2 separate regions of the Homo sapiens genome follow, and region 1 is linked to region 2. The links come from fine-mapping of genetic effects on gene expression. A gene starts in region 2. The other region holds a variant in brackets. All regions are shown on one strand. Distances are between the middles of the regions. Region 1 overlaps CASP10 (caspase 10). Region 2 holds the start of CASP10 (caspase 10).

Region 1 (5,381 bases), 29 kb before region 2:
GATTATGATAGAACATACTTACCAAATGCCCTCTATTTACATAAGTATCATATTAGCATTTATCATATCACTTCTGGGGGTATTAGTCTATCAGTCCCACCTAATATCATCCCTCCTATGCCTAGAAGGAATAATATTATCATTATTCATAGTAAATACCCTTATAGCTTTAAATATACACTTCACCCTAGCAAATGTAATACCCATTACTCTACCAGTATTTGCTGCCTGCAAAGCCAGGGTAGGCCTTGCTTTGCTACTTTCAATTTCCAACATATATGGCTTAGACTACATACATAACCTAAATTTACTTCAATGCTAAAAATAACTATTCCTACAATTATACTACTACCAATAACATGACTCTCTAAAAATTATACAATTTGAATCAATATGGCTACCCACAGCCTAATCACCAGCTTCATTGCCCTATTATTCTTTAACTAATTCAACGACAATCTATTCAACTTCTCATTAACTTTCTCCTCTGATCCGCTAACATCACCCCTTCTAATCTTAACAGCCTGACTACTACCTCTTATAACTATAGCAAGCCAGTACCACCTCTCCAGTGAATCACCCCTATGGAAAAAACCCTGTATTTCCATATTAATTTCCCTACAAATTTTTCTAATCATAGCATTTACAGCCACAGAACTAATTATATTTTATATTCTCTTTGAAGCTACACTTATCCCTATCTTAATTATTATCACCCGATGGGGTAACCAACCAGAACGCCTCAATGCAGGTACATATCTCTTATTTTACACACTAGTGGGATCCCTCCCCCTACTTATTACACTTATTTATGCCCAAAATATCCTAGGCTCACTGAGCATGATAATAATAACATTTAATATCAAGAACTACCAATCTCCTGATCCAACAATCTCATGTGATTGGCATGTATAATGGCCTTCATAGTAAAAATACCCCTATACTGACTTCACCTATGACTTCCCAAAGCCCATGTATAAGCACCTAAGGCTGGCTCAATAGTACTTGCAGCAGTGCTCCTAAAATTGGGCGGCTACACAAAATGCGACTTACCCTCATCCTCAGCCCTCTGACAGAACATATAGCCTATCCTTTCCTGATATTATCCTTATGAGGCATATTATGACAAGCTCCATCTGTCTACGACAAACTGATCTAAAGTCACTTATTGCACATTCCTCCGTAAGCCACATGGTACTTGTTACTGTGGCTATCCTCATTCAAACCCCCTGAAGTTTTACCAGTGCAATTATCCTCATAATTCCCCATGGACTTACTTCGTCCCTACTATTCTGCCTAGCAAATTCAAACTACAAGTGAATCCACAGCTGAATCATATTACTCTCTCGAGGACGTCAAACATTACTTCCACTAGTAACCTTTTGATGACTTACAGCAAATCTCACCAACCTTGCCCTACCCCCCACTATTAATCTAGTAGGAGAACTCCTTGTAACAACGGCTTCATTCTCCTGATCAAACACTACCATCATGCTTATAGGACTTAATATATTAATCACAGCCCTTTATTCCCTCTATATACTTGTCACAACACAACAAGGAACACTAACATACTATATTAACAGCATTAAACCTTCCTTTACACGAGAAAACATACTAATACTCATACACCTTTCACCAATTCTCTTACTATCTCTAAATCCTAAAATTATTATAGGACTTATACCTTGTAAATATAGTTTAATCAAAATGTTAGATTGTGGTCTAATAATAGAAGTCCGCAACTTCTTATTTACCGATAAAGTTTGCAAGAACTGCTAACTCATGCCTCCATGCCTAACAACATAGTTTTCTCAACTTTTAGAGGATGAGAGTTATCCATTGGTCTTAGGAACCAAAAATATTGGTGCAACTCCAAATAAAAGTAATAATCATGTATTTTTCCATTACTATAATAACCTTAATCTCCTTAACCTTACCAATTATTATTACCTTTATCAACCCTCACAAAAAGAACTCATATCCATACTATGTAAAAATAGCTGTCGCATGCACTTTCACCATTAGCCTCATTCCCACAACATTTATGTGTACAGACCAAGAAACCATCATCTCAAACTGATATTGAATAACAATCCAAACCCTAAAACTCTCATTAAGCTTCAAACTAGACTAATTCTCCATAATGTTTATTCTAGTAGCACTATTTATCACTTGATCTATTATAGAATTCTCAATATGATATATGAAGGCAGATCTGAACATTAATCAGTTTTTCAAATACCTACTTATTTTCCTCACCACAATATTAATTCTAGTTACTGCCAACAACATTTTCCAACTCTTTATCAGATGAGAGGGTGTAGGAATTATATCTTTTCTACTAATTGGCTGATGACATGGCCAAGCAGATGCTAACACAGCAGCCCTCCAAGCAATTCTATACAATCGCATTGGTGACATTGGCTTTATTTTAGCTATAGCATGATTCCTCTCATCATCCAATACATGAGAGCCTCAACAAATACTTATCCTTAACCCTACCCCCAACCTTCTTCCATTAATTGGTTTTCTCTTAGCAGCAGCAGGAAAATCAGCCCAACTTGGCCTCCACCCCTGACTTCCTTCCGCCTTGGAAGGCCCAACCCCAGTCTCAGCCCTACTTCACTCTAGCACTATAGTTGTGGTGGGAGTTTTCCTACTTACCCGCTTCCA[C/T]CCCTCAACATCACTAATCATCACGGAAATGCAAATCAAAACCACAGTGACAGCTGGGCGCCGTGGCTCACGCCTGTAATACCAGCACTTTGGGAGGCTGAGGTGGGTGGATCACTTGAGATCAGGAGTTCCAGACCAGCCTGGCCAACGTGGTAAAACCCTGTCTCTACTAAAAATACAAAAATTAGCCAGGCGTGGTGGCACATGCCTGTGATCCCAGCTACTCGGGAGACTGAGGCAGAAGAATTGCTTGAACCTAGGAGGCAGAGGCTGCAGTGAGCTGAGATTGCGCCACTGCACTCCAGCCTGACAGAGCAAGATGTTGTCTAAAAAAAAATAAAAATAAAAATAAAAAACCCACAGTGAGATGCTACTTCACTCAAGTTAGAATGGCTATTATCGAGGAAACAAAAGAAAACACATATTGGCAAAGATCTGGAGAAAAGGGAACACTTACACACTGTTGGTGGTATTGAAAATTAGTACAGCCATTATGGAAAATAGTATGCCAGTTCCTCATAAAATGAAAAATAAAAATACTATATGATCCAGCAATCCCCATACTAAGTATATAAACAAAGAAAATGCAATCAATATGTCAGAGAGATATCTGCACTCCCAGTTTACTGCAGCATTATTTACAATAGCCAAGATATGGAATCAACCTAAGGGTCCAAAAATGGATATATGGATAAAGAAAATGTGATATTTATACGTGACAGAATACCATTCAGCCATAAAAAAAGAAAATCCTGACATGTCTGACAACATGAATGAGCCCAGAGTGAAATAAGCAAGACACAGAAAAAATCTGCTTGTTCTCACTCATGTGGAATCTTTGTTTAAAAAGTTGATGTCATAGAAGCAGTGATTAGAACAGCAATTACAAAGATGAGAGAGAGAAGGAGGGAAGGGAAGATGAGAGGTTAGTCAATGGGTACAAAGTTACAATTAGATAGGAGAAATAACCTCTGGTGTTCTGCTGCACAGTGGGGTGACTATGGTTAACAGTAAGGCATTCTGAGCTGGGCACTGTGGTTTGAGCATATAATCCTAGCTACTTACAAGGCTAAGGCAGGAAGATTGCTTGAGCCTAGGAGTTCAAGGCCAGCCTCGGCAACATGGTGAGATCCCATATTTAAATCAATCGATCAATCAGTAAGGTGTTGTATATTACAAAATAGCTACAAGAGAGGCTTTTAGAGGTTCTCACCACAAAGAAATGATAAATGCATGAGGTGATGGATACACTAACTACCCTGATTTGATCATTATACAACACATATATGTATTGAAACATCAAATTATAACCCTGAAATATGTAGTTATGAAGTATCAATTAAAAATAACAGAAATTTCTGGAGTACCAAAAAAAACCACACATTGCTTAATCATGCATGTATACTGTCTCCTTTTAATATTGTTGAATTTTTAAAATAATAATAATTTAAATATTCACTTATATTTTTATTATCTGTCCTTCCTTCACTGGACTTTTAGCTCCCTGGAGAGCAGATTTTGTCTCTCTTGTACACAGTTGCACCCCCTGTCCCCAGTTCGGTACCCAGTACAGTAAGCACATAGTACGCTCTCAATAAATATTGCCTTGTTCCTGAAGCCATAGACATTAGCCTCTGATGTCTGTGATGAGAATGGAGGGGCTGGTAAAGAAGAGAGAAAAGCAAAGTTGACTCAAGGTTCCAATCCTGAATTCCCAGAAGAGCACTATGGCCATTCCTTCAAATGGAAATTCAGGAGTAGGAGCTCCTGGAGAGAGCTGGGAAGATGAGCTCAGAAACATGCATGCTGAATGTGAGGTCCAAGGGCTAAACAGAGGTAGGATATCTAGCGGGATGTTAATGAGACAGGCTCAAGCAAGTCATTCATTGGCCCAGCAAATGTTTAACAAGCTCACAATATATCAGGTCAGGGGCTGAGGATATAAAGTTGAATGAAACAGGGTCTCTGCCCCCAGGAATTCAGAGATGAGTGGGCCAGAGATGGCAACTTTGGAGACGTTTTCATGGAGGAGCCCATGGCCTCTAGGTATGGCTAAAGGTGCCAAGAGGACAGCATGTGGCAGAGACAGAAGGGAAGCTGTCAGAGCAGTGGCAAATAGAAGTCCAAAGATAGCACATAGGTGCTCAGGACGTAAGAGTGAGTGATAAATAAACGAACAAATAAAAGGCCCCCATGCTTTTGTTCATGCTATTCCCTCTGCCCAGCACATCTTTCACCTGATTCTTTACCTAACATCTATTTGTCATTTCTAGAAGCCTCCTCTGATCCTTCAAATCTGGGCAAGGTACTCATTCTGCATGTTCCCATAACACCTATACTTCACAATGTGCACTTACCAGCTGGGGATGCCCTTCCCCGTCTATTTGTTTGTCTATCCCTCTAGCTTGTAAGCAACCTGAGGGCAAGGACTCTGTCTTTTTTTAACTCTGTATCTTCCTTTCCAGGTCCAGGCTGGTACTCAATACAAGGTTGCTGGATGGATGGATGGATGGACAGATGGATGGATGGATAGATGAATGGGTGGATAGATGGATGGATAGATGAATGGGTGGATAGATGGATAAATAGATAAACAGGAGGGTAGGCAGATGGTTGAACAGGTACATGGATAGAACAACGTAGAACTCTCACCCTTACCAAAGGTGTTGAATGAGAGTAAAATAAAAAATAAATAAAACTAATTA
Region 2 (5,381 bases):
CTGAGAAGGAGGTTTAGAATCTCCTGGTTTATCATCCAAGGAGGTAGATAACCAAAAGATCTTAACTGCAGCTTCCTTTCAAAGCCCAATGGCCAGAATGAACACTAGATGGGAGATCCTCCCATCTCCACCACAGACCCGTCCTCACCTAAACAGAGAAACCCTTTGTCGGGTGGGCAGCAGTCGCTCCACTTCCTCTTTGGTACAGTTGAGGTGCTGCAGCAGCTTCTTCTGCCGTATGATATAGAGGAGTTCTGCCAGGAAGAAAGGGTCTTCCTCACTCAGCAGATCCTCTGCCAAGAGATGTTCAAAAACATCTGAGGCTGAGCTGGACTTCTCCAGCTTCTTGTTGGGGACCAATCCTATGCAGAGAAACTTGAGGTTCTCCACATCTTGGACCCCCAGGTTTGAATCAATAATCAGAAGCTTCTCACGAAAGCTCACTTTACAGTTTTTATCTGAACTGGAATACCAATGTTGACCTTGAGATTTCATGGCCAGCCTGAAAGGGACAGAGAGGTGGGGCAGGGAGTTAGAGAGTGAGGACATATGGCCCCCTGACTTCCCAGGCCCTCCCCTCACCACAACCTTCTCCGTTCTGGGCATTAGACTTTCCTAGAAGTGCTGAAAAATAAAAATTACGGCGAGGCTACTTCAAAAAGCAACAGCCCAGAAAACTTTTCCCCAACACTTGCAAGTTACTTTTTAGGAAACTTGGAGGGTGCTTATATTGGAATTCAATTCACCTTGATTTCTCCCAAATCAAAATGTTCCCAGAGAGAGAAAGTTAAGATGGAGGGACACAGCACAATTTTTCTCAAGCCTGGTAGCCTGATTGGAGCCCTTACATTCATTTCCAGCACGTGGCAGAAATAGCACTTGGCTCTATGCTTTAAGTTTTAGACACAAAGCAATCTGGGGGAGGCAGGGTTATCCTTATGATCTATCAACCCAAAGACAGCAAGGTACCGTGAGGTATGTGTGTTACATCTTAACTTCAGACTGCTACCTGTAAGAGGGCAGGCCTTTATCTTACAGAAAGGGAAGGCATAATCCTAGACCTCAAGCCTGAGCAACATGGCGAGACCTGGTCTCTACTAAAAATACAAAAAATTATCAGGGCATGGTGGCACATGCCTGTGGTCCCAACTACTCAGGAGGCCGAGGATGGAAGGATCATTTGAGCCTGGGGAGCACAGGTTGCAGTGAGCCATGATCATGCCACTGCACTTCACCCTGGGTGACAGAGTGAGACCCTGTTTCAAAAAGAAAAATAAATAAATAAAATATCCTAGACCTCAGGAGGAAAGGGTGGTTTTAGACAAGAGTTGCTCAAATCAGTGTAGGAAGTTAAAAATTACATGAGTCGGCTGCTCTGTCTATGGAGTAGCCATTCTTTTGTTTCTTTACTTCTCTAATAAACTTGTTTTCACTAAAAAAAAACAAATTACATGAGTCAATGTTTCCATCTGATCAGTTTATAAACTATGCTATTCTCTATACTAAATTTCATCATAATCAGAGGAGCAATGCAGTGATAAAATTTTCATTGTAATACTATTTATTCTATAAGCACTTGAGGTATGTAGTCAATATGCAGAACTTGGCTATTTTTAGAAACAAGAAAATACTTTATAAAGGAAGGAACAGGTGGGGTGTCATGGCTTACGCCTATAATCCCAGCACTTTGGGAGGCCAAGGCGGGTGGATCACTTGAGGCCAGGAGTTCAAGACCAGACTGGGCAACGTGGTAAAACCCCATCTCTACAAAAAATACAAAAATTAGCCAGGCATGGTGGTGCACGCCTGTGGTCCCAACTACTCAGAGGGCTGAAGCAGAAGGATCATTTGAGCCCCGGGGATGGAGGTTCCAGTGAGCCATGATTGTGCCACTGCACTCCACCCTGGGTGACAGAGCAAGACCCTGCCTCAAAAACAAAACAAAACAACAACAAAAAAACCTCCTAGACCTCAGAAGGAAAGGGTGATTTTAGACAAGAGTTGCTCAAATCAGCGAAGGAAGATAAAAATTACATGAGTCAATGTTTCCATCTGACTAGTCTATAAACTATGGTATTCTACATACTAAATTTCATTATAATCAGAGAAGCACTTCAGGAGACTGAGGCAGGTGGATCACTGTGAGGCCAGGAATTCGGGACAAGCCTGGGCAACACGGTGAAACCCCGTCTCTACAAAAAATACAAAAATTAGCTGGGCTTGGTGGTGTATGCCTGTGGTCCCAGCTTCATAGGAAGCTGAGATGGGAGGATTGCTTGAACCTGGGAGGCGGAAGTTGCAGTAAGCCAAGATTGTGCCACTGCACTCCAGCTTGAGTGCTGGAGGGTGAAAGAGGGAGACTCCGTCTCAAATAAATAAATAGATAAATAAATAAATAAATAAATAAATAAATAAAGGAAGGAAGACACAGCAAAAATCAAAACCTCCATAACAAACAGTGGTTATATCGAGGTGACATAACTATAGATAATACAAATTTCCTTCTGGGCTTCCAATTGAATTTCTCAAATTTTATGCATATGTGAGCATACACATTACTTTTGGTGTTAAAAGAAACAAAAAAATGTCATTTTTAATGTGATAATCCAGGGGATCTTCCCTGCTACTAGCCCTGAGGTCAAATGAGTGGTTTATTGGAGACACCTTTCTATTCTACCGCATCTAGCATTTGCCTTGTGGTTTCTTGACAATTCTGATCTCTAGTTTTAGTGAGTCTACCAAACTTTGTCTCTGTGAGCTAACATATTTCTGCCCCGGTAAAAGGCTATGTTGGAGGCTTCCGGATTTTTTAACTTTTGTTTTCCCAGGCATGACAAAGAAATCTAAGAAAAAATAGTGCCATTGCTGACAAGTTTTTGCAAGTTTCTACAACACGAAGCCATGAAGCAAAGGAAAAGATTCAAGCATGAGACTCTGGAGTAAGAAGGGTTGTTAATTACATACCTTCAGATCAAGCTCCACCAATCTTCTGGAAGTAAACGGTTCTCAGGGAAATTGCCTGAAAACAAAGTTTTAAAGAAAGTAGAATCCTCTGTGTGCTCCAAGGTCCAAAGAAGCTCCCATTTGCTTGGGAAGAGACTTCAAGACTTGCTGGTTGTTTAAGTGAAAACTGAATCTTCAGGACTGGGTAGCCTGATACTAGTTTCCTGCTGATGTCATCACTGCTTATCTGCCTTTTTCCCTCCCCTTTTCCAGGGTTAAGATAACTTTGACAAACAGCGTCTCCTAAAGGCTAATTTACAACTTTCTCACTGTAGAGCTTGGGGTTTCCCCAGGTAAAGCAAAAGCTTCCTAGAAACGAACCCGTGGAAGCCACAAAGTGCTTCAGGCTTTCCTTTGGATCTCCATTTCCTTGGTAAGTCAAAAAGGGAAGCATCTGTTTTCCTAACCAACTCCTTCCCCAAACACACTTCACTTTTCAAATAAAGCCAAAAAGCTCATGAAATAGTTGTCGGCCATGTTAACCCTTTCTTATGTCCACATGCAAATAAACAATGGAGCGATCTCCACTTACCGCAACCTCTGCCTCCTGTGTTCAAGTGATTCTCCTGCCTCAACCTCCCGAGTAGCTGGGATTACAAGCATGCGCCACCACGCCCGGCTAATTTTTTGTATTTTTAGTAGAGACGAGGTTTCACCATGTTGGCCAGGCTGGTCTCGAACTCCTGAGCTTGTGATCCACCCTCCTTGGCCTCCCAAAGTGCTGGGATTACAGGCATGGAGCCACCGTGCCCGGCCCACAAATAAAATTTTTAAAAGATAAAAGAAAAGTGGGGATTCACTTTCAGTCTTTGTGGGAGAAATTAAGAAATAAAAAGAAAAAGAAAGGAAAAAAAAAAGAAAAGTGGGGATGGTGAATTACAAGCCCATTTGGAGGTACCTGCAAGAGACTCAACAAATTTGTGGTAGGCAAAACTGACAGTATGTGTTCTCACAGCACATTCAAACCAGCAGGAAAGTGAGACTTTGAAGACATTATTTCTAATCATAAAAACAATACTGCACACTAATATTGCAACTACCATGTGCCAGGGCATTTACAAATATTTACTCATTTCACCATCCCAACAACACTGTAAGATAAATACTATTACTATGACTGCTGCTTTAACATGTGAAAACTAAGGCACAGAAAGGTTAATTAATTTGCCCAAGGTCACACAGTGAGCGGCTGGAAGAGCCAAGATTTAAACCAGCAAGTTTGGATCAAAGTCACTACACTATAATTAAGCTAACTCAAATGTGCAGCACTCTGGAAAGAGGTACAGAGTCTTAGAAAGATGTTTTATCTATGGGGAAAAAAAGCAAGATTTATGATGCTTTGATTAGCAAATGTATTAAAATGTCCTTTCCATGTCCTAGGCATCATTCAGAGAACTTCTGTGCTTAAGAAAGACAAGTCCTGGGGCCAGGTGCAGTGGCTCCCGCCTGTAATCCCAGCACTTTGGGAGGCTGAGGCAGGCGGATCACGAGACCAGCTTGGCCAAGATGGTGAAACGCTGTCTCTACTACAAATACAAAAAATTAGCTGGGCGTGGTGGCACACACCTGTAATCCTAGCTGCTCGGGAGGTTGAGGCAGGATAATCGCTTGAAGGCAGGAGGTGGAGGTTGCGGTGAGCGGATATCACGCCATCACACTCCAGCCTGGGCTACAGAGCAAGACTCCTTCTCAAAAAAAAAAAGAAAAGAAAAAGACAAGTCCTGGCCAGGCACAGTGGCTCACACCTGTAATCCCAGCACTTTGGGAGGCTGAGGTGGGCAGATTGCTTGAGGTCAGGAGTTCAAGACCAGCCTGGCCATCATGGTGAAACCACATCTCAACTAAAAACATAAAATTCGCCAGGCTTGGTGGCACATGCCTGTAATCCCAGCTACTAGGAGGCTGAGGCTGGAGAATCGCTTGAACCCGGGAGGCAGAGGTTGCAGTGAGCCAAAATCGTGCCATTGCACTCCAGCCTGGGCGACAGAGAAAGACTCTCTCAAAAAAAAAAAAAAAAAAAACCTTCTTGGGAAAGGGGGGCCGGAGCACAGCAGGCTGGGTTACTCACTACCCCAGTTCCAGGGAAGGTGGGGCCCTGACCCTAGAATGCTGCAGCAGAGTGAGGAGGGGGCCCCAACTGACCATAAAGAGTGTAGGGACCACCTTCTTTGCCTGTTCTGTTGGGACCAGGCTAGTCATTATTTGTCCCAGCCTGGGGCTCCCCCTGTGGTTTCCAATTTGCAGTTACTTTAACTTAAAATATAAATATTATTTTCTGGAAAATAACTTAAAAAGGAAGAAAGACAAGCCGTAAGTCTTGGTCTTCTATTTAGTTGTTTTATTATAAATATTAAATTTATTGGGCCATTTAGGGAGGC

The links. PIP is the estimated chance that this variant, and not a neighbour inherited with it, causes the effect. A credible set is the group of variants that fine-mapping cannot tell apart.
Region 1: its variant is the best candidate, but not a certain one, in a credible set for the expression of CASP10 in whole blood (TOPMed, PIP 0.69).

The regions. Positions count from the first base shown.
Region 1 is chr2:201,209,595-201,214,975 of GRCh38, reverse strand. The region is part of intron 9 of CASP10 (caspase 10); the gene reads right to left. It also overlaps the pseudogene MTND5P25, the pseudogene MTND4P23 and the pseudogene MTND4LP13. Among named protein-coding and RNA genes, the nearest start is that of CASP10, 29 kb to the right of the region's middle. The variant C/T (reference allele first, on the strand shown) is at 2,677.
Region 2 is chr2:201,180,892-201,186,272 of GRCh38, reverse strand. CASP10 (caspase 10) reads right to left here and starts at 3,132. Exons shown (of 10, transcript NM_032977.4): 1 at 2,965-3,132; 2 at 149-502. The coding sequence starts at 495.